Homo sapiens: one gene and its partners. The protein of the gene in region 4 purifies or fractionates together with the protein of the main gene of each other region. This does not show direct contact. Each region holds a gene or a part of one and is shown on either strand. Other genes may lie near its edges.

What was found.
Region 1: the proteins of PASK (region 4) and FBLN7 purify together in Homo sapiens (co-immunoprecipitation; one large-scale study listed by IntAct). This does not show direct contact.
Region 2: the proteins of PASK (region 4) and ZNF628 purify together in Homo sapiens (affinity purification with mass spectrometry, with the first as the bait; one large-scale study listed by BioGRID). This does not show direct contact.
Region 3: the proteins of PASK (region 4) and AKAP8 purify together in Homo sapiens (affinity purification with mass spectrometry; one large-scale study listed by BioGRID and IntAct). This does not show direct contact.
Region 5: the proteins of PASK (region 4) and EMILIN3 purify together in Homo sapiens (affinity purification with mass spectrometry; 2 studies listed by BioGRID and IntAct, with this or other methods). This does not show direct contact.
Region 6: the proteins of PASK (region 4) and AP1G1 purify together in Homo sapiens (affinity purification with mass spectrometry, with the first as the bait; one large-scale study listed by BioGRID). This does not show direct contact.
Region 7: the proteins of PASK (region 4) and NOM1 purify together in Homo sapiens (affinity purification with mass spectrometry, with the first as the bait; one large-scale study listed by BioGRID). This does not show direct contact.

What each region holds. Positions count from the first base shown.
Region 1 is NC_000002.12:112,183,385-112,186,051, reverse strand, and holds part of FBLN7 (fibulin-7 isoform 1 precursor), read right to left. Parts: intron 852-2,667; coding exon 713-851; intron 1-712. UniProt on the Homo sapiens protein: An adhesion molecule that interacts with extracellular matrix molecules in developing teeth and may play important roles in differentiation and maintenance of odontoblasts as well as in dentin formation.
Region 2 is NC_000019.10:55,482,302-55,484,987, forward strand, and holds the end of ZNF628 (zinc finger protein 628), read left to right. Parts: coding exon 1-2,072; 3' UTR 2,073-2,186; downstream 2,187-2,686. UniProt on the Homo sapiens protein: Transcriptional activator. Binds DNA on GT-box consensus sequence 5'-TTGGTT-3'. Plays a role in spermiogenesis.
Region 3 is NC_000019.10:15,369,788-15,373,287, forward strand, and holds part of AKAP8 (A-kinase anchor protein 8), read right to left. Parts: coding exon 3,064-3,500; intron 2,561-3,063; coding exon 2,431-2,560; intron 2,212-2,430; coding exon 2,165-2,211; intron 393-2,164; coding exon 359-392; intron 1-358. UniProt on the Homo sapiens protein: Anchoring protein that mediates the subcellular compartmentation of cAMP-dependent protein kinase (PKA type II).
Region 4 is NC_000002.12:241,135,973-241,139,472, reverse strand, and holds part of PASK (PAS domain-containing serine/threonine-protein kinase), read left to right. Parts: intron 1-678; coding exon 679-819; intron 820-1,385; coding exon 1,386-1,520; intron 1,521-2,208; coding exon 2,209-2,469; intron 2,470-3,433; coding exon 3,434-3,500. UniProt on the Homo sapiens protein: Serine/threonine-protein kinase involved in energy homeostasis and protein translation. Phosphorylates EEF1A1, GYS1, PDX1 and RPS6.
Region 5 is NC_000020.11:41,359,462-41,361,640, forward strand, and holds the end of EMILIN3 (EMILIN-3 precursor), read right to left. Parts: coding exon 1,807-2,179; 3' UTR 501-1,806; downstream 1-500.
Region 6 is NC_000016.10:71,753,335-71,756,834, reverse strand, and holds part of AP1G1 (AP-1 complex subunit gamma-1), read left to right. Parts: intron 1-675; coding exon 676-816; intron 817-2,947; coding exon 2,948-3,002; intron 3,003-3,500. UniProt on the Homo sapiens protein: Subunit of clathrin-associated adaptor protein complex 1 that plays a role in protein sorting in the late-Golgi/trans-Golgi network (TGN) and/or endosomes.
Region 7 is NC_000007.14:156,963,212-156,966,711, reverse strand, and holds part of NOM1 (nucleolar MIF4G domain-containing protein 1), read right to left. Parts: intron 2,808-3,500; coding exon 2,686-2,807; exon of another isoform or gene 2,524-2,685; intron 443-2,523; coding exon 310-442; intron 1-309. UniProt on the Homo sapiens protein: Plays a role in targeting PPP1CA to the nucleolus.

The DNA of each region.
Region 1 (2,667 bases), about 130 Mb from region 4:
TAATCTGCTTTAACTCAACAGCAATTCAAATAATTAAGTTACCCTCCATGGCTGTTACTTCATTTTAAAGACAACGCTAGGGCTCTTGTGATCTCTTTTTGAGAGGAAAATGTATGTGCTTTGTGATAGTTGTAGTCATTCCCCTTAAAGGCCCATCTCCCAACTTTAAAAAAAAAAAAAAAAGCTCTACTTGCTGTTTAAGAGTTGCAGTTACTAGATGTAGAACCTTCTAGTACTATTGGAAAAGCAGAGTGATATAATGCAGGGTGCACGGGATATGCAGTGTAACTCAAGGGAGTCTATAGTTCCTGGCTATGTGAATGCTGTCACCTCCCAAATCCATGTGATCTATACCTGTCTCCTGGGCTGCTATGGGTTTATCAGGGTAATGTCACCAACAGCTTCTTCCCTTCAGTGCCTGCCCTGGCTTTGCCATCCTGGGGTGGCAGCAACCCCATCAACCTCTATGTAGTGGGGGTGCACTTAGTATATTACTCCCATGGGGAATGGGGTTCTTATTTCTCCAGAGCAGCAACGCATTAAATGCAACCACTAAGCGGAAATGGAAATTCAGAGACACCAGCCTCCCAGCCTCCTGCCTCTCATCTTTCTATGGTATAACTGTACCTTCTCCCAAGAACCTCTAGGAAGCATCCAGCCCAGCCACACTTGGAGGCCTGGGTGAGGGTGTGCCTCCCCTGGAGATACTCACAATGGAGACGTCTTCACGTAGCTCACATTGCCGCTGCCCTCGGGGCACTCAGGGCTGACACACTGGAAGCTTCCACCGGTGTTGATGCATGTGGTCCCCTGGGGGCACACCGGCTGCAGGCCCACACATTCATCCACATCTGAGATACAGGACATACAACAGGTGAGAATCGCCCTGACCTTCCCTCCATTGCAGACAGAACCACATGAGAGGCCCTGCAGGTCCTGTAATGTGGTGCTCCCTGCTCCTGGCACTTATTCTTAAAGCAGAAAGCCTGCCTTCCTTAACTGTGTGGAATCAGGGCCCTGAGGAAATGCCAGGGAGTGCCCCTCCCTGGGATCCTGTCCTCTTTCCCTGGGGTATGACAGGTGGCAAGGATGGTGGAAAGCACCAGGTGAGTGTTACTGGTCACAATGCTTCTCTTAGACCTGTCTGCTTCTCAGCCCAAGTGCCCCATTACCCTCCATGGCTGTTATTCTTCATATATATATATGTGTGTGTGTATATATATGTATATGGTATATATATATATGTATATATGGTATATATATACACACACCATATATACGTATATATGGTATATATGGTGTGTGTATATATATATACCATATACATATATATACATATACCATATTCATATATATACCATATATACACCATATACAGCATATATATACCATATACCTATATATACTATATATACACACACTTTTTTTAAATTAGAATCTTCTAGAAAGTCTTCCCTGCCAGCCTCACCCCATGCGAGTGCAGACACCTCAATATCATGATTTGTATGAGTTCTCTGCTCCCTTTGCAGACATCCAGAGAGTCTCCCCAGCTGGAGGCCGTCCCTCCCAACCCCAAGCAACCCCAGGTGGGCCTTCGTGAGCACTGTGGGAGGGAGGGAGTGTGGGTGGCTATCTGGATGCCTTCTCCTGCTCCAGCCCCAGGTCACCCACTCCTCAGAGCCCTGCAGCGGGGCCCCAATGGGATGTCACCGGGGAGCCACCTCTCCCCTCACATTCCCACGTCAGCCCATGGAGGAGCCCTCTGCCCTCTCTTCTCCCGTTCTCCCTTGGTGGGTCAGAGCTGTTATCTGGAGCCAGCGGGGCTCCCCTCTGTGTCCTGTTTCCATGGGGGAAGTCCAGCTGGGGAGGTGGGCCTGTCCACCCTCCTAGTGTGAGGTATGCCTGCAGGAGCAGAACCAGCCCCCCGAAAGGCCCACTGCAGCATGGTGGTTTAAGGGCCAAGGGTCAGGATGATCCCACTTGGGCTTCAGGCCTGAGATGTGTGCTCTGACTCAGCTCATGTGGAGATTCAGCATGTCTACATCAACTGACATCTGTATTTTCCCTAAGTGGAGGTGGGGAAACACAGGAGGCTTCCTGTTAGGCACCCAGTGTCCCTGGGACTTGTCCTGTAGTGATGATGGTGACTGTTGCGAGGGTTCTCAGCCTCTCTGTTCTACAACCAACCCACTCTGCACACATCCTTCCTAATCTCTTAGGTGCCTCCCATCCCTGCTGCAGACATTCCTTGTCAACTTAAGATGTTCTTTCCCACTCTGCCAGGAATCAGCCTCAGAAACCTCAACCCGGCCCTCCAGGAAACCACTGCTGATGGACAGGATTCAGCACTGGGGTGAAACCTGAGCCAGTTATTTTCCATCTGCGCCGCTGCCCCCCAACCCACTCTCTGCACCTGAGAGGCTGACTGGTTTTTAGCTGGGGTTGGCAAATGACAGTGACCCAGCCTGAGGAGTCCTGACCTGCCTGGATGTGGTTCTGATGGAGGCTGTGTCCTTGATCAGAGCCACAATCTTTCAGGCTCTGATAAGCCCCCTCACTTCCTGTACCTCACAAGCCAGGGGTAGTGATGCCCCCGACTCTTGTCCCTCCCTGGGTGCTCCGCCTCCCTTGTTGTCCTCAGCTACCATCAGACAAGGCTGGTGCTGT
Region 2 (2,686 bases), on a different chromosome or scaffold from region 4:
GGCTCTCCCGCCACCAGCACAGCCACGGGGCTGCCGGCGGGCAAGCGTTCCGCTGCGGCAGCTGCGACGGCTCCTTCCCGCAGCTGGCCAGCCTCCTGGCGCATCAGCAGTGCCACGTGGAAGAGGCCGCGGCCGGGCGCCCGCCCCCGCAGGCTGAGGCTGCGGAGGTGACCTGCCCCCAGGAACCGCTGGCGCCTGCCGCCCCCGTCCCGCCGCCACCCCCGTCCGCCCCCGCTTCTGCGGAGCGGCCCTACAAATGTGCCGAGTGCGGCAAGTCCTTCAAGGGCTCCTCCGGGCTGCGCTACCACCTGCGGGACCACACGGGCGAGCGGCCCTACCAGTGTGGCGAGTGCGGCAAGGCCTTCAAGCGCTCCTCCCTGCTGGCCATCCACCAGCGGGTGCACACGGGCCTGCGGGCCTTCACCTGTGGCCAGTGCGGCCTCACCTTCAAGTGGTCGTCCCACTACCAGTACCACCTGCGGCTGCACTCTGGCGAGCGGCCCTACGCCTGCGGGGAGTGTGGCAAGGCCTTCCGCAACACGTCGTGCCTGCGTCGCCACCGCCACGTGCACACTGGCGAGAGGCCCCACGCCTGCGGTGTCTGCGGCAAGAGCTTCGCGCAGACCTCCAACCTGCGGCAGCACCAGCGCGTGCACACGGGCGAGCGGCCCTTCCGCTGCCCGCTCTGCCCCAAGACCTTCACCCACTCCTCCAACCTGCTGCTGCACCAGCGCACGCACTCGGCGGAGCGCCCCTTCACCTGCCCCATCTGCGGTCGCGGCTTCGTTATGGCCGCCTATCTGCAGCGGCACCTGAGGACGCACGCCCCGGCCAACACGCCTCCCAGCACCACAGCCCCTGCCGCCGGCCCCCAGCCCCCTGCTCCACTGGCTGCTGCGCGGGCCCCGCCAGCCACCCAAGATGTCCACGTCCTGCCCCACCTCCAGGCCACGCTCTCCCTCGAGGTGGCGGGGGGCACGGCCCAGGCCCCGAGCTTGGGGCCAGCAGCGCCCAACTCTCAGACGTTCCTCCTGGTGCAAACTGCCCAGGGCCTCCAGCTGATCCCCAGCAGCGTGCAGCCCCCTACACCTCCGCCCCCTCCCGCACCTCCCAAGCTCATCCTGCTGCCCTCCTCCAGTGCTGGGGCTGGGGGCGGCCGTGCAAGGCAGGGCCCGCGGGCAGTGGGGAAAGCGGGCCAGGGGGCGGGAGTGGTCTGGCTGCCAGGCCCTGGGGGTCTAGGGGTGCAGGGAGCGGCCAGCGCTGGGGCCAGCGGGACAGGGCAGAGCCTCATCGTTCTGCAGAATGTGGGGGGTGGGGAGGCAGGGCCACAGGAAATGAGTGGGGTGCAGCTCCAGCCCCTCCGACCAGCCCCAGAAGTAACCACGGTCCAGCTCCAGCCAGCGCAGGAGGTGACCACAGTCCAGCTCCAGCCAGCACAGGAAGTAACCACGGTCCAGCTCCAGCCAGCACAGGAGGTGACCACGGTCCAGCTCCAGCCCGTGGCCGGCCAGCTCTCCAATTCCAGTGGGGGAGCTGTGGCTACTGAGGCACCCAACCTGCTGGTTGTTCAGAGCGGGGCAGCTGAGGAGTTGCTCACTGGCCCGGGCCCCGGGGAGGCGGGGGATGGCGAGGCCAGCACTGGTGTGGTCCAGGATGTCCTCTTTGAGACACTCCAGACGGACGAGGGCTTGCAGAGCGTGCTGGTGCTGAGCGGGGCCGATGGCGAACAGACTCGACTCTGCGTACAGGAGGTAGAAACACTTCCTCCTGGGCTGACGGAGCCGCCTGCCACCGGCCCACCCGGACAGAAACTCCTCATCATCCGCAGCGCCCCAGCCACTGAGCTGCTGGACAGCAGCAACACTGGAGGAGGCACCGCCACGCTGCAGCTCCTGGCCCCACCGCCGTCAGGCCCAGCCTCGGGCCCCGCGGGGCTCCCCGGGGCTCCAGCCTCCCAGATGGTGCAAGTGGTCCCCGCAGGAGCTGGGCCTGGTGTTATGACCCCTCAGGGCCTGCCCTCCATCCAGATTGTCCAGACTCTACCCGCAGTCCAGCTGGTGCACACGTTTTGAGGAGAGGCAGTGATTCCCCTCCCGCCCCGCACAGAGACCCCGACTCACTGCCAGCCGGGGCGGGGCAGGGTGCCGCAGGCTGGGCTTGCTAATAAAGACCCGAGTCTCCCCGCCTGTGTTTTGTTTTCCTGGGGGGAGGGAAGGGGGCAAAGTCATGGTCCTAGCCCCCGCCTGGGAGCGTGGAGTCTTAAGTCTTGCGTCCTGGGTCGCAGATGGCTTGTTCTGCATCCTGGGGCCAGCCACTACGTAGGGCTCAGTTCCCCTGTCCTGAAACCAAAAAAGGCCGCAGGGGTCATTATAGTGGGGAGGTGGTGACATCAGACTCCAGGGAGTGCTACTTGTTCACTGTAGGTCGCCCCGCTGCCCCCCTCGTGTGAGAAGTAGGGGGATCCTTATGCGGAAGGGTTCTGCGACCCCGGGCGCCCCGTGGGTGGAGTGGGGTCCCTGGGGATGGGGGAGTCGGGCGCCAGGATGCTGAGCGTGGCCGGCTCCTCCCGCGAAGGCCCCGGCACGGATGAGAATCCACGCGCTGGCGTCGCCGCCCGGCGCTCAGGTTGCTCAGCAACGAGGGAACGTGGGGCGGGAGCTCGCGCTGGTCCCCAGCCCGCCGCCCG
Region 3 (3,500 bases), on a different chromosome or scaffold from region 4:
TCAGGGAAATGCACTGGCCGAGGAGGGCACAGAAGATGGGCTGGGGGCCTCTTCTCTCATGTTTCTCCTTCCCTACAAACTTCGACTGTGGTGGACACCCAAGGCTGCCCCCCATCCCCACTGCAGCCCACATCGGGTCAGGCAGACAGACCCGTTTCCAGTAAATGCTGCCCCAGACACTTTGAAGCAAAGTGTTGGCTGATCGCCACGGTCAAGGCCCATCTGGTGGCTGCAGCCCCTCTTCCCCCACAGCCACGGGCCCCTCCATCCAGGCCCCTGGCTTGCTCAGAAGCTGGGCAGTAAGTGCGGGGCAGCTGGGAAGACACAGGAAAGCTGCAAGGGACACGGTGATGCCTACCTCTTTGCCTCCCAGAGTCGCAGAGTTCATCCTCCTGGAAAAGAGTATACACAAAGTCCGGCAGTGAGCTGGTGTGTCCAGACTCTCCACAACCAGCCCAGTCCCTGGCCACTGCCTGGTGGGCAGTCTCACCCAAGACCTAGGTTGCTATGCCACCAAGAATGAGCCACAGTGTGTTAGGACCAGCCTCCGGGGCTCAGGACAGGGCCTGTGTGTCCTGTTATTACTCCTAGTTGCCTTCAGAGATTCTGTGACAATCACCTTGCTAAAAAGCCATTCACCCACCCTCTCTCGGTTCCTCCTAAGCTGCAGAACTGCCTGCCCCATGACAAAGACCCACCCGTACAATTCTATGAATGGAGCCTGTTCACCAACCGTAGGGAGATAGAGTCTCACTTGGGGGATGCCAGTTCTGGCATTCTTCATAGAAAATGGGTTCCACCACGTTTCCCGAGCTTTTGTTTATATTTACCCAATGTCTTTTTTTTTTTTTTTTTTTTTTTTGAGACGGAGTCTCGCCCTGTCTCCCAGGCTGGAGTGCAATGATGCAATCTCAGCTCACTGCAACCTCTGCTTCCTGGGTTGAAGCAAATCCTCTGCCTCAGCCTCCCGAGTAGCTGGGACTATAGGCGCATGCCGCCACATCCAGCTAATTTTTGTATTTTCAGTAGAGACGGGGTTTCACCATATTGGCCAGGATGGTCTCAATCTTGTGACCTCGTGATCCACCCGCCTTGGCCTCCCAAAGTGCTGGGATTACAGGTGTGAGCCACCGCGCCAGGCCTATATTTACCCGATGTCTTAATAACAATCACGTATAGATAAAAACGATTCAACTGAGAATCTGAACAGAGCTGACTCCTTAGGCAGTGAACATACGGCTAAATTAACAATCAGCAGGTTTACAGAGATTCCTAATCTCAAGACCAGCAAAATAGGGATCAAGTGAGACTCTGAAAACCTGAAAAGCCACCATCTCCTGCCTGTTCCCTGCCTGTGTGACTCTAAGGACTTGGGGAAGGCCCTCCTTCCCACTCTGGACCTCCAGGCCCTACACCTCCAACTTGGATCAGAATCTACACTGGGGTGGCTGAGGCACCTCCCCAAGAGCTTGGGGTGGTCCCGGCTATGAACTGGCCCCACGTGCTGCCTGCCTGTGCCTTGTTGTGAGGATGGAAGGATGAGGACACCAGTCAGCGGCACCCGGCACGGAGCTGGCGGCAAATGAGCCTCCAGCCTGTGCTTGGAGGCTTCAGCCCACAGTCCCTGCACTTACTGGCCTAGAGACCAGGGAGAGGAACTGGGAGCTTTTTTCAGAAAAGGAATGTTTGTTGTAAGTTGAAAACTTTTTTTTTTTTTTTGAGACGGAGTCTCCCTCTGTCGCCCAGGCTGGGGTGCAGTGATGCAACGTCAGCTCACTGCAACCTCCACCTCCCAGGTTCAAGTGATCCTCCTCCCTCAGCCTCCCAAGTAGCTGCTACTACAGGCAAGTGCCACCACTCCTGGCTAATTTTTGTATTTTTAATCGAGACGGGGTTTCACCATGTTGGCCAGGCTGGTCTCCAACTCTCGACCTCAAGTGATCCACCCACCTGAGCCTCCCTAAGTGCTAGGATTACAGGTGTGAGCCACCGTGCCGGCTAAGGTGGAAAACTTTTAGAAATCTAGCTAAAAGTCAGGGTCCTGAATCCACTCAGAGGTAGTCAAATCTACCATGGCAGCTGCTCCTGCCCCTTTGTGAGGAAGGGTGATTAAAGAAAGAAGAAATCCCACACTAGAGGCAAAAGGGCTGCCTGGTGGACTTACACCCTTGAATTCTTCATCTCCTGAGCGGAAGTCACCAGCTGCGTCATCTGCCAGACACAAAGAAAGGAAAAGTCAGTCCCCGGAGAACGGTCCCATCCGGTTTCCGCCCTCCCAAGCTCGCCATCCAGGGTGAGTCTGCCCTGACCACAGTGGGGTTGAAACATGCCACCTGCGAGTGTCCACGACACAGATGGGGCAAGCAGAGCCCCCAGCAGGCAGCCGACCCATCCTACATCTGTCTGGCCCACCTGGCCCCCAGGACATACCATTTTCGGAGAAATCTCCTTCACTGTCAACCCGGGCCAGTTTGGTGTCTGGCTCCTCGTAAAGTTGGAACTGCTTCCGTTTCCTGCCCGTGCCATCTGGTCCGAAGCGGTCAAACCCTCTCCTCTTGGGCTACAGACAACAAGCACACCCCATGAGCTACTTACGAGGGCCATGAAGATGCCCCACAGAAAAGAACAAGGAGGTTGTAGGATCAGACAACACAGGCACAAAAGGTCTTTTCAAAAAGCAAAGAGACAACATAATTTGAAACTAAAAAGAAAATCATGCTGAGTGAAAAGAAGCCAGGAACAAAAGGCCACACGTTTCGCGACTCCATTTGTGCAAAATGTCTAGAACACACAAATCCAGAGACCAGTGGTGGTTGTCGGGGGCTGGTGGGGGCGGGGAAGAGACAGGGGTGACTAATGAGAAGAAGTTTCTCTTCTGGTTGACATAAATGCTAAGATTAGACTGTGATGGTGGGGATGGTTGCACAATCCTGTAAATTAACTAAAAGTCGAACTGCGCACTTAAAAACATTTAAGTGAATGTTGAGATGGGGAAATTTTACCTCAATAAAGCTGCTAAAAAGAGAAGCGAAGGCGGCCGGAAGGAACCTTGCGAGGGCTTACCCGATCCCGATCCCGCATCCGAGGCTGCGAGCGGCCACATCCGTAGGGCATGGTGCTGTCATAGCCGCCCGCCCCCTGCATGCCCATCACGCCGTAGTCGGGAGCCATGGACTGGGAGAAGAGGGACGGAGGTGGCCGGCTGGGGGAGGGCCCTCCCAGGCCCCGTCCACCCACGTAGTTCAGCTCGTTCCAGGGCGTGGACAGGGGCTCAGAGGACGCAGCGGGGGGCACGAAGGGGTCGCTGCGCATGAAGGTGCCAGGGTTGCTCCGGTCCTGGAAGCGGCCCTGGCCCCGGCCCCGCATGAAGCCATCAAGGGAGCCCCGCTCCCGGGCTGGGTCTCGGCATTCACTGTACTGCCCCCCAAAGCTGCCATTGCGGTCGGACCCCAGGTCGAACTCATAGTCGTAGCTGTAGCTGGGGCGGTAGGGGTTGTGCT
Region 4 (3,500 bases):
CATTTCCCTAGACAGTGTTGATTCTCTCACCTGTGCCATGTGTCCAACCTGGATGTTGACAGGTGAGCTGAGTTGGATGTGGAGGACTGAGCCCAAGGCATGGAAAAAGCCCAAGGCATGGCTGATTGTAGGGTTTCCCCTCGTCAGCCGGTCGGGGACTGGGGGAGTAGCGTTGGAGGGCAGTGGAGGTTGGGGTATGATCTGAGGCTCTAGTAGTCATCCAGATCCTCCAGGTTGCCTGTTTCCCACCTAGTGTGTGGCTTTCACACAGAAGACCCCATTGCTTGAACTGAACTGATGTCACAGGCTTAGGACCAATTGTATCAGAAAATCACTGGTTCAAGAAACTGACTACTAAGAAGAAAAAAACTAAGATATTCACCATGTGTTGGTGTCTGTTTCTTTAAGAAATAACAGATACTGCTTTTTTCACCCTGCAATATTACCATGAACTGAGAATGAAATCTACTCTCTTGATAAAACTTGCACTTGGAGATTTTAATGTTCAGTATGGGAAATCTTGTTTGTGCTTTGGTAAATTTCTGAAATGAAAATCAGGTAAGCAGAAGTTGAAAACGTTGCAGTGCCTGGAGTTTGGGCCTCCTGGAGGCAGGTGCCCCACCCATACTGGTCTTTTGGGTTCATGGCATGCAGGTGTGAACCTGTCTGTTTCCACAGGTGGACATCATCAGCCGTAGTGGGGAGAAGATTCCAGTGTCTGTGTGGATGAAGAGGATGCGGCAGGAGCGCCGCCTATGCTGCGTGGTGGTCCTGGAGCCCGTGGAGAGGGTCTCGACCTGGGTCGCTTTCCAGAGCGATGTGAGTGTGCAACTTTGCCTCATGTCTCATGGACGCTGGAGCCGGCGTCGTTCTCCTCTTCAGCAAGTGCTGGTCCCTGTCTCATTCCTTTGGGAAGAAAGAGAGGATGAGGAGCCTGGAGGGTCTGCCCAGTGGTACCCTCGCTGATTGCGTGTGCTTGGGCAGGGAACGAACTTCCTATACTTCAGTTCCTCACCTGTGAACTGGGGCATAATCATAACTCCTCATAAGATTGTTTCAACATTTAAATGAGATAATATATGTAAACCCCCCAGGATAGTAGCTGGCATTAGAGACAGCCCTCATATGTGAACTGGGATGTTATTAATGAGCTGTGGTGTGGGCCAGGCTCCTGAAGAACAAGAAGGCCCACAATTTAGGTACGTCTCTGGTAGAAGGAGACAGATGATGAAGCTCTTATCAAATTCATGTGTATATGTCTCTTGCCCTTCCGATGGAGAAGTCATGTTGGGGTCTTGCTTTTGGCTTGAACATATTGAAGCTTAGTTAAATTTACAGCTGGAGCACAAGAAGCTTTTATGATAAGCACGGGGCTTTTCCTCCAGGGCACCGTCACGTCATGTGACAGTCTCTTTGCTCATCTTCACGGGTACGTGTCTGGGGAGGACGTGGCTGGGCAGCATATCACAGACCTGATCCCTTCTGTGCAGCTCCCTCCTTCTGGCCAGCACATCCCAAAGGTAGGGCTCCTGACCTCCCGCACTGTGTGATGGGGTGGAGTTCTTAGCTCTGAATCCATAACTGGAGACGCAGACCAAGGGTTTCTGAAGGCAAGGGTGGCCTTAGGGGTGGGACATGCTCAGTTTTGAGCTTCCTGTGCGCTGAGGCCTTGACCAAGGGCCGGAGCCTATGTGGTCTCCCAGCTGACCACTCTTGTCCCCTGAGTCTTCTCCCAGGAGCTGGGCCACCCACAGAGGTGGATGCTGGGACGCTGCCCAAGGCTGAGGGGTGGGAGGTAACATCCACAGCTGCGCAGCTGGTGTAGTGCTGCCTGTGGGGCCAGTATCCTGGTGCCAGATCAAGGATGGCACAGTTGCCAGTGGCGTGGCTGAGCCCCGAGCCTGAGCCCCACAGTCCTCCCTCCCTCCCTCCCTGCTGGTGCCCGGCCCCTCACTGGGGTGTCTCACTTGCCCTGGGGTTGCTGTGCCTGGGGCGGCTCTGGACACTGAGTCCTCCCCACCCACAGAAGGGCTCTTTCCTGGGCCAGCTGGGCCTGGGAGGAGAGGGAAGGCAGAGCAGTGTGGGTGTGAGATGTCCTGGGGACCTTCCCCGATGACGTGGGGTAGAAGTCGGGTCGGACGCAGCACAGACTCAGTGCTCTGTCCACGTGAAACACGGCTTAAGCCAAACGACAAGCCTTTCTTTCAGAATCTCAAGATTCAGAGGTCTGTTGGAAGAGCCAGGGACGGTACCACCTTCCCTCTGAGCTTAAAGCTGAAATCCCAACCCAGCAGCGAGGAGGCGACCACCGGTGAGGCGGCCCCTGTGAGCGGCTACCGGGCATCTGTCTGGGTGTTCTGCACCATCAGTGGCCTCATCACCCTCCTGCCGGATGGGACCATCCACGGCATCAACCACAGCTTCGCGCTGACACTGTTTGGTTACGGAAAGACGGAGCTCCTGGGCAAGGTGGGGCTGCCCTGGGCGCCTGGCTCCCGTTCCCTGGGAGGAAGCTGCTGTGCTCTGCAGTGCGGGCTTGCGTGTGGCACAGGCCTCGCACCCGGCAAGCTCTCCAGCTCGCTCCTTTACCCAGGAAGGACCTTGGGTCCAGGGAGGGAGGTCCCTGCTCATGGCTGCCAAGCTCCTTCCTCTCCACCCTTCCCCAGCAACCACCGTCGGAGGGAGAGGAGCACTGTGCTTCGAAGCCCTGAGAGATCTGGTCTGACTGATGGACCAGGGTTTACGACACAACTGCGGGGGTTCATTTCTCACCCTAGTAGAAATACTAAAAAGTAGCTAAGCTGAATTGTAGTTACGTTAAATTTAAGTTAGTTAAAAAGCAGTTAGTGTTCTTCCTGGATGAGGGGTTCCCACAGGAGCTGAGGGCATTGAGACCTTGCAGGGATTTTGGGGGCATGGACACTTGTGCCCTCTGTGAGGTTAGAGCGGGTTCTGGCATTACAGCTATGGGCAGTGTCCCGGTGAGGGGGCCACACACAGGTTCAGAGGAAGCATCTGTCAGAGCAGCTCCTGGCCTGGGAGGAAGGCCCCACAGTCCTTCTGTCCTGGGTGCATGTCACTGTTCCGGCCACCAGTGAGCCGCGTGAGGTGAGGCTTGCAAACACAGGCTCCCAGATCCATCTAAACATGGGGCCAAAGGCCAGATGTCTGCTCCAAAGATGTGTCGATGTCACTGTAACTTGCCGCAGAGTATGTTTTTACCTTTTTCTTAAGGGGAAAATCACAGATCACATGTTGAGCATCTGAGGGGCTTCAGGTGCGTCGAAGGGCATTTGGCCCGAGGCCTTTCCTGACCTTAAGGGTGAACCCTCAGGGACTGGCTCTCCTTGTGTTCATTCCTCCCCCAGGGGGACGGTCCAGTGGGTCAGCGTGGATCCTCCAGGTTCTGAAATGTCCCTGCTTTGTTTTCTAGAATATCACTTTCCTGATTCCTGGTTTCTACAGCTACATGGACCTTGCGTACAACAGCTCATTACAGC
Region 5 (2,179 bases), on a different chromosome or scaffold from region 4:
ATATCTGTCTCCCTGTCAACCTGGGACCTTGCTGTAAGTCTTGATAGGACAGGGAGAAGAGGGAGGCCCTACCGAGGCTCGAGGCTTCAGTGAAGGGTGACAGCAGTGGGAGTGTGGTACAGCCTCTGGAAGGACACAGTGTTCTCCCCGCCCCTTGTCTGGGAGCCAGGACTGTACCCTCCGAAGCCAGACATCACTGCCAACATATCCCCCTTGCTGGTGCCCTGGCATCTCAGCACATGACACACACCCACACCTGCAGGCTGTGGTTCCGGCTTGGCCTGCTCCCCGTCCGGCTGCTGCCGCTGCCTCTCTCCAGACCTCGCTTAAGGACAGTCCCAAACTCAGCTGGGGCAGGTGTTGGCCTGAAAGTCCTCCCCCAGCCTCTGCTGGCCAGCTTGGTGCTCACAGCTGCTGGGTAAGCTCTTGCCTAAGGAGCTGTGGGAAGCAGGGCTGATGCCCCAGCAACCTCTCCTCCCACTGTCTTTGAAGAAAGTAGCTTTAGACCGGCTAAAAGCTTTAATCCAGAGCCTGCCCTACTCTGATAGTACCAGAGTGGAGGGCAGAATACCAAATGTCCAGGAACCAAAGGCAGGGCTGTGGGGACCTGAAGAGCAGCACAGTGGGGCCCGTGCTGCTGTGGGGGAAACTGAGGCTGGGAGCCTCAGCAGAGACCGGTGTCAAGAGTCTCTGGGAACTGCATAGGCCTGAGGAACATGCATTTTCAAGTTGTCCATTGATGGTTTCGTACCTGAATTTCTCACCTTTTGTGAACATCTTGGGAGGGTGGGGGTTTTGCAGGGGTGTTAAAAGCAAGGCTTGGAGCCCCTTTCCTCCAGCTGGTGGCTCCTTCTCAGGGCCTGGCCTCATTCAGGCCACTTTGTAGAGAAATGCCCTGACCTCGCAGGAAGGATTTCCCCACCCCCAAGTGGAAGGAAGAGGACAGTGTGGGCACCAGAGGGCCCTGGAAACATCTTAGGGGAAGGAAAGGAAAAGGATAAATTTGGAGTGGGGGGTCTCTAAACAGATTGCCTGGATTCCGTTCTTTCCTGGGGTTCTACAGCTGCCTAAGCCCTCACCTTGGGGGAGGATCAAAGGGAATAAAGAGAACTCTTGGCTGAGTCTTTGTGCTTCTGTTCTGTCCTGAAGGACACGTGAGGAGCCAGAAACATCTGGCAGCCTCTGGTCCTTAGTTCAGATACAACATCCATGAAGCTGCCAGGTGTGAGGAGAGTTCCAGTGGGCATCACCTTCCTGCACAAACCTAGTCCTGATGGCTGCGAAGAGAAGCCGAGGGGACAAGGAACAGAAGCCACCAAGGGCTGTGGACTGTTGCTTGTGGGCACAGGGCAATGCGGACAGGCCACTGGCTGTGGGCCTGTAGGTCTCTGCACAGTTGCTGAGGCTGGTGCTGACTGCCTGCAGGGTCCTCTCAAGGCCTTACATACGGACACTGATCAAGGCCAGTTTGCCACAGCAGCTGCCCCTGCCAGCCATGCTCAGGCCCTGCAGCTGGCTGTCCAGACACTGATTTGCTGACAGTGGAATGTGAACTCTCTCAAGTCTACCCTGGCCTTCAAGCATGACATCCTTGCCTTGACCGCTGTCCGGAACTGTCCAGTTTCTGCAGCACTGTGCATGGGTTTTGGTGGCTGGGACAGCCACGTGGAGGATTCCCTCAGTGGCCTCCTTAGTGCCATTTGGGCTAGCCAGGGAAGGCTGGAAGGCGCTGCTGGATAAGGCTGGGCTCTGGGGTGATGTTCCCCGAGTTGGTGGGATCTAGGGGTTGGGTCCTGGCCAGCCTGTCTAGTTGGCTTGCCCTGGCCGCACCTGCTCAGCCAGCTGGGCCTGGCAGTCCAGTAGGTCATCCCGGAGGCGGGCAATGTCCTGCGTGTGCTGGGCCAGCGTACGATTCAGCTGGTCCACATGGCTCCACAGGCCCTCTCTGGGCCTCAGTGGCTCAGTGGGCAAGCTGTCCAGGCCCGCGGCCAGCAGGCCCAGCCTCCTGCACGCACCCTCCACTTGTGCCACCCGCTGGTCAAAGTGTCCCACTGTGTGCTGAAGTTTCTGGGCTGTGTCCTGGCAGCGGCTCAGCCCACTGGCCACCTTGGCCACACCAGCCTTGAGTTGCTCCAGCTCCCCACGCAGGTTCAGGACCTGCCTGTGGCCAGCCTGAAGC
Region 6 (3,500 bases), on a different chromosome or scaffold from region 4:
TAGTACCTGGGACTACAGGCGCCCACCACCATGCCCGGCTAATTTTTGTATTTTTAGTACAGAAGTGCTTTCACCATGTTGGCCATGCTGGTCTCAAACTCCTGACCTCAGGTGATTCGCCTGCCTTGGCCTCCCAAAGTGGTGAGAAAACAGGTGTGAGCCACCACGCTCGGCCTTGAATTTGTTTTTAATTTGAATTTTCTGCATACCTTTTGACATAAACTATATTACATCATGTTTGGACAGAGTGGGGTGTAATAAAAGTAGAATATGGTGACTTAACATGTCACATTTTTAAGGAATGAGGCAGATAGGTATTATTATTGGGTAATACATTTATTTGTTGCCCCTCTTTTTGAGACTCTCAGGTATTCTAACTTCCACCTTTGTAGAACAGCCTGTTGAACCCAAGCTGCATGTTTGGACATTAGTGGTATATCTCGTAGGGACTTTTGAAGAAGAATATTGCATGAAGATTCAAAATATCAAAACTAACTTTGATTATGTAAGAATACATCTCCTTGGTTATTTCGTGTGCAAAGATTGGGATCACAAGATCGTGCAAGGACGTCAGCACATCTGGCAGTACTTGGTGTTCACAGAGTGCATACCTGGGTCTTTGTTTCATTTCCACTATAAATTTCTTAACTGTTTTTAATTTTTCCCTTCTGCAAGGCGTGCAATGGAATTGAGTTTTGCCCTGGTAAATGGGAATAATATCCGAGGCATGATGAAAGAATTACTTTATTTTCTGGATTCGTGTGAGCCAGAATTTAAAGCAGACTGTGCATCTGGAATCTTTCTTGCTGCAGAAAAGTAAGATTTAATTTTTACCTTTATTGGTAAAGTCTGCTTGGAACTTTTGGAAGTGTCTTTAAAACATGGGGAGGGGGCTGGGCGCGGTGGCACACGCCTGCAGTCTCAGCAGTTTGGGAGGCCAAGGCAGGTGGATCATGAAGTCAGGAGTTCGAGACCAGCCTGGCCAACATAGTGAAACCCTGTCGCCACTAAAAATACAAAAATTTGTTGGGCCTGGTGGCACGCGCCTGTAGTCCCAGCTACTCGGCAGGCTGAGGCAGGAGAATCACTTGAACCTGGGAGGTGGAGGTTGCAGTGAGCCAAGGTTATGCCACTGCACTCCAGCCTAGGTGACAGAGCAAGACTCCATCTCAAAAACAAAACAAAAAAAAAAAAATGGGGAAACTACTTTAAATATGTTTAAAACACATAACATTTATTTCAAACCCTCAATTATAAATTAGCTTGGAGAAGGCTATTATAGCCAGCATTTAAATATGCTGAGACCAAAAAAATTTCACACTTTTATGAAATCTTCTCCTTTATCTGTTCTTTAACCTCTCATCTATGATGCTGGTTTTTTTTGTTTTGGGTTTTTTTGAGACAGGGTCTCACTTTGTCACCTAGGCTGGAGTGCAGTGGCACAGTCTCGGCTCAGTGCAACCTTGACCTCCCAGGTTCAGGGGATCCTCCTGCCTCAGCCCCCCAAGTAGCTGGGACCATAGGCTTACGCCACCACACCCTGCTAATTTCTGGGTTTGTTTTTTTCTTTTTGTAGAGATGGGGTTTCGCTATGTTGTCCAGGCTGGTCTCGAACTCCTGGACTCAAGCGATTCGCCTGCCTCAGCCTCCCAAAGTGCTAGGATTACAGGCATCAGCCACCACACCTGGCCTGTGATGCTGTTTTAATAAAGGCAATAGAACAGTTACAGCACCTGAATTGCAGCTCTATGCAGAATTTTGAGGAAGTACCTTATGATTTTAGTAGTACAGCTATTCTTTCTCTTCTTTCCACTCTGAATTTAAGGAAACAAGTTTTTAGTCCAAATGTTGTCTTGGTCTGAAAACAGTCCCTTTTCTTCTTTCTTCTTTATCGTCTCCTGCCCTGACTGAATGATTCATTTTCTCTGAAACTGAAAACAAATCTCATTTCTCAGCTTAGCAACTCTTATTGCAATCTTATGGGAAACATCTGAGTTTGACTATGTACCCTCTTTTTTTTTTTTCTTTAATTTTAGAAACGGAGTCTTGCTCTGTCACCCAGGCTGGAGGGCAGTGGCCCAGTCATAGCTTACTGCAGCCTGGACTTCTGGGCTTAAGCCATCCTTCTGCCTCAGCCTCCTGAGTAGCTGGGACTGTAGCTGCAAATCATCATGTGCCACTAATTTTTTAATTTTTATTTTGTAGAGATGGGGTCTTGCTATGTTACCCAGGTTTGTGTGGAACTCCTGGCCTCAAGCACTCCTTCCTCCTTGGCGTCCCAAAGTACTGGGATTATAGGCATGAGCCACTGAAGTCAGTTGACTGTATACCTTTTTATCACTCTTTGAAATGGCATTTGCTGCTAGATTTGAAGTTGAAATGTTTCCAGATATGTTCACTTATCCAGGGAACCTAGAAAAGACTGTAGGACAGGATTTTCTTCTCTTTTCTTTTCCTTTCTTTTCCTTTCCTTCCTTTCTTTCTTTCTTTCTTTTTCTTTCTTTTCTTTCTCTCTCTTTTTTGTTCCTTCCTTCCTTCCTTCCTTCTTTCCTTCCATCTTCTTTCCTTCTTTCTTTTCTTTCTTCTCTTCTCTTTCTTCCCTTTCTTTTCTTTCTTCTGTTTCTTCTCTTTCTTTTCTCTCTCTTCTTTCTCACTGTAGCCTCAACCTCCTAGGCTCAGGCAATCCTCCTACCTCAACCTCCCAGAGTAGCTGAACTACAGGCACCCACCACCACACCCAGCTAATTTTTGTATTTTTTGGTGAGATGGAGTTTCACCGTGTTGCCCAGGCTGGTCTCGAACTCCTGAGCTCAGGTGATCTCCCACCTCGGCCTCCCAAGATGTTGGGATGACAGGTGTGAGTCACCCTGCTTGGGCAGGATTTTCTAGTCACTGAAAACGGTATATTTTACTGGTTCCAAGTGTCCCTTTCCATTGTTTTTTTCAGGTATGCACCTTCCAAACGATGGCATATAGACACAATTATGCGTGTTTTGACAACGGTAAGTAGCTTCTTTCAGACAGCATATACGAAGTGCTGGGATATACTGATGTTATCATGAAGTTTATGTTCTAGTCAGGGAGGTAAGAAATTCACAAGTAAATAGGTAACATTAATGTCAGTTAGGAATAAATGCCATGAAGAAAAACCTAAAGCAGCATGGAGGAATATAATGATGGCAGGATAAGGTGGGATATAGGGCAACTGGCCAAGTGTTTTAGATTAGAGTTAGTCAGGGAGGTCTCTCAGAGGAGATAACATTTGAGTAGAGACCTAAGAGACATGAGGTGCAAGCCATGCAGAGATCGTGAGGAATAGTGTACCATACGGAGGGAACCCTAAGTGCAAAGACCTGAGGTAGGAACAAGCATAGCTTGCTTGGAGAGCAACAGGAAGGCAAGTGAAGCCATAAAGTGAGAGAGGCAGAGAATGGTAGGATGGATGTCAGAGACATAAGCGGAGCCAGACTATGTAGGCCTCATGGGAGCTTGCATTTTAT
Region 7 (3,500 bases), on a different chromosome or scaffold from region 4:
CCACAGCAAGGGGCATCAGAACAGACTGGTGCACTGTGAACCGACGAGGTGCTCCTGCTGGCCTGGCCACACTGCCTGCATCTGTGGCAGAAGCAGGTGACATGAGGACATGGTGGACCCTTGACACTCCCCTCTAGCCCTCCCACTTCCGCTCCCAGTGAAGGTGGCCTGGCAGCCAGCGTGGACCAGGTGACGGGGATATCAGGGGCCTCCTGACTTGGGGAACTCCTTTGCAGGTGGGTTGAGCCAGGTAGCCTGTGTAGAAAAAATAGTAGAGCGGACGTAACTGGTGCCTCCGCACTAAGCTACCTGAAATCTCCTTTCATATTCACAGAATTTGCTAGCCAGGAAAGCATAGAAGGGATTGTAAGTTTTCTCTTGAAGGCAGCAATCCATGAGAACGTGAATGATTTCTCTCTCCTGCTGATCCTTAAGTCCAAGCCTAGAAAACAGAACAGCAATGACTGGAACATCACTCGACTTCCAAAGTTTAATGGCTGATACCTTTCAGGGGAACATCTTCCCGCCTGGAAGGGTCTGGTTAGAGGCGAGCCACGTAAAGGAGGTGGAGGCAGCGGCAGACACCAGCTAGGGGCCCAGCCCTGTCACAACCTCTCTGGTCCTCAGGTTCTCCTACAATGTGGCAAAATGTCAGAGGAGACAAGACCATCTAGGGGGTCCCCCGTCGCTGCAAAAGTCGACAGCTGTGCCCGGCTGACAATAAACTGACTCAATCGTGTGTGCCCTTAGAGCTGGTTCCTGCTATGGCGATGACTTCACATTTTCTTACTTTTTTTTTTGAGACAGTCTTGCTCTGTCACCCAGGCTGGAGTGCAGTGGCATGACTTCAGCTCACTACAACCTCCATCTCTCCGGTTCAAGTGATTCTTGTACCTCAGCCTCCCGAGTAGCTGGATTACAGGTGCCACCACCACCCCCAGCTAATTTTTGTGTTTTTAGTAGAGATGGGGTTTTGCCATGTTGGCCAGGCTGCTCTCGAACTCCTGACCTCAGGTGTTCCACCCACCTTGGCCTCCCAAAGTGCTGGGATTACAGGCATGAGCCACGGTGCCTGCCGTCGTTTGTAAAACTTGAGTTAGAGCTCACACACAGTAAAACCTATCCTTTGTAGTGTAGAGTCCTGAGTGTGGATAAGCCCATATGGTCAGGTCACCACCGGCAATGCCGAAACAGAACTCTCCATCACCCGTGAGAACCTGGGGCCGTGAGCCACCCTTGCCGTGGGCCACTGCTAATCTGCTTCTGTCCCTCTAGTTTTGACTCTGCCTCTGTCACACAGATTCAGGGCAAGGTGGCTTCCTGCACGGCAGAATACACTCGAGAGTCACCATGCTCTTGGGGCCTTGGGAGTTTGCCCCTCGTGATGCCAAGTAGTAAGTATCCCTTAGACGGCGTCTCATGGTTTATCCTTTCCCCAACTGAGGGGTATGTGGGCTGCTTCCAGTTTCTGGTGAGATCCGAATACGGCTGAGGCTGCCACCTCTGCACAGAGGCAGACACTCTGTACCTCAGGAGAGGAGCACCAGCTCCACTGCAAACAGCACAGCCCCACGTAGAGCACTCAGGTGAAGGCAGCGCAGGCGGCGAAGGCGGCCCAAAGAACCAACTGAGTTTCAGCTGCATTGATTATCAATTCATGTTGATTAAAAGCTTAGACTCATAACTCATGATTTTGAGGAATAAGAATGGGAAAAACTATTGTTTAATACACGTAGTTTGATAGGCCAAAATTTTCAACACATGAAGTCAACCAGAGGAAAAATAAACGAAGTCCTTCGAGTACAAAGGATAAGCTAGACCCGCTGACTAGAGAATAAGAGTTCTCCTCAAAAGAGCCCTTTTAGAGACCAAGGGTGACTAGGGAGATGGGAGGTTTTCGGCAAAACGGCAAGGCCACAGAGAGGCAAAGGGAACTCAGGACTTCCACTCCAACTAGAAACTCTAGTTTAGAAAATAAAACCCTAATTATCAGAATCCTAAAAGGAACCATGTTCTCCCTGTATTTCATCCTAGTTTGAAGCAAATAAAAGAATATGTATTAACATTACATTGTTTAGAAGTACCTCATAAAACTACACAGGTACATTTAAAGATTTTTTTTTTCTTTTTAAATGAGATGGGGGTCTCAGTATGTTGCCCAGGCTGGTCTTGAACTACTGGGCTAAAGTGATCCTCCTGTCTCAGCCTTCTAAGTAGCTGGGATTACAGGATCTTTAAAATCTTATTACAACTAATTATACAAACTATACCAGGATGTTTTAAATGAAGAATCAGAATAGCTTTATTATGAAGATTTATGTATTTTTAAGCAATTCGTGACAACCAACAGCCACTGACAAGGTCATCAGATACTTTCAGTCAAAACTCCCCAGTCTCCAGCCTGAGCAACATGGCAAGACCCTGTCTCAAAAAAAAAAACCCCAAACCCCCAATCTTTATATATCATAAAATGTTCTAATGAGGAACTACTAGAGGCAAATTAATAGGAACATGACGACTAACCCAGAGATGCACGAATCCAACAGCGTGAGCGGATGGTCATGAGAACAGCCCAGTCCTCCCTAGGCAGCATCAGACTCAGTCGTCCAAAACTCAAAAAGCAAATCAACTTACTTATTTTACAGCATCTCATTAATAGGTCAAAATGTGCACACAAATGCTTACTTCAGAAGCTTTTCAAAAGCATCCAAAAAATCTTCACTTGTCATTATTGTGCAGAATATGTTTCTCCGGATGTCTGTGTTCATCCTCTGCTTCCGGGCGAGTTCTAGGATCTTTGAACTGACCTGGAAGCACGATGAATGGACAAGTCATACGCATGTCTCCATGCAAACTGCCTCCCGAGAGGTGCCAAACTGTACTTCAGTGTCACTGAATAGAACTGTGAGGTCTACGTGGGCGGATGGCACCAAGTCCACTCTCGGGCAACGCCCCTCTGTGCAAGGGGAACACATAGTGAAGCCACAGCCGCTGGGGGAGAAAACACTCATGTGGGAGGCTTCTCAGTCGTGGTTCAACCTCAGGGCAAGCGACGATGAATAAAACAGAGAACCAGTCACTGGCAGAGCCTGGGAAACCGTGACCATGAGTGACACAGAATCTGGGACAGGGAAGGACATGAGGGGATAACGAGGGAAGTCTGGATGAAAAATGGGCTTGAATTTCCACAATGTGAAATCCATAGCCTGTAGCCTAGAATGCACAGCCCGGGGGGCAGCCTGAGGGGTCTCAGCAACGGACTCCTGCCCCGTGAGCGTTCAGGTCCTCATGCGCTCCCCTGCCCCGTGCCATTCAACTTTTAGATCTTTTAAAGTCCAATAAAAAGATACAACAGAAATGGAATAATTATATCACAATGTAATATTAATAGCAATTTCTGTAAGGCCTCCAGATAAACCTTGTACATTTCAGTGACCATTCAAGAACAGTAAGAGAGCTGCTCCAGGTAAAGCCAGGACCACACACCACACAGGGGGGTG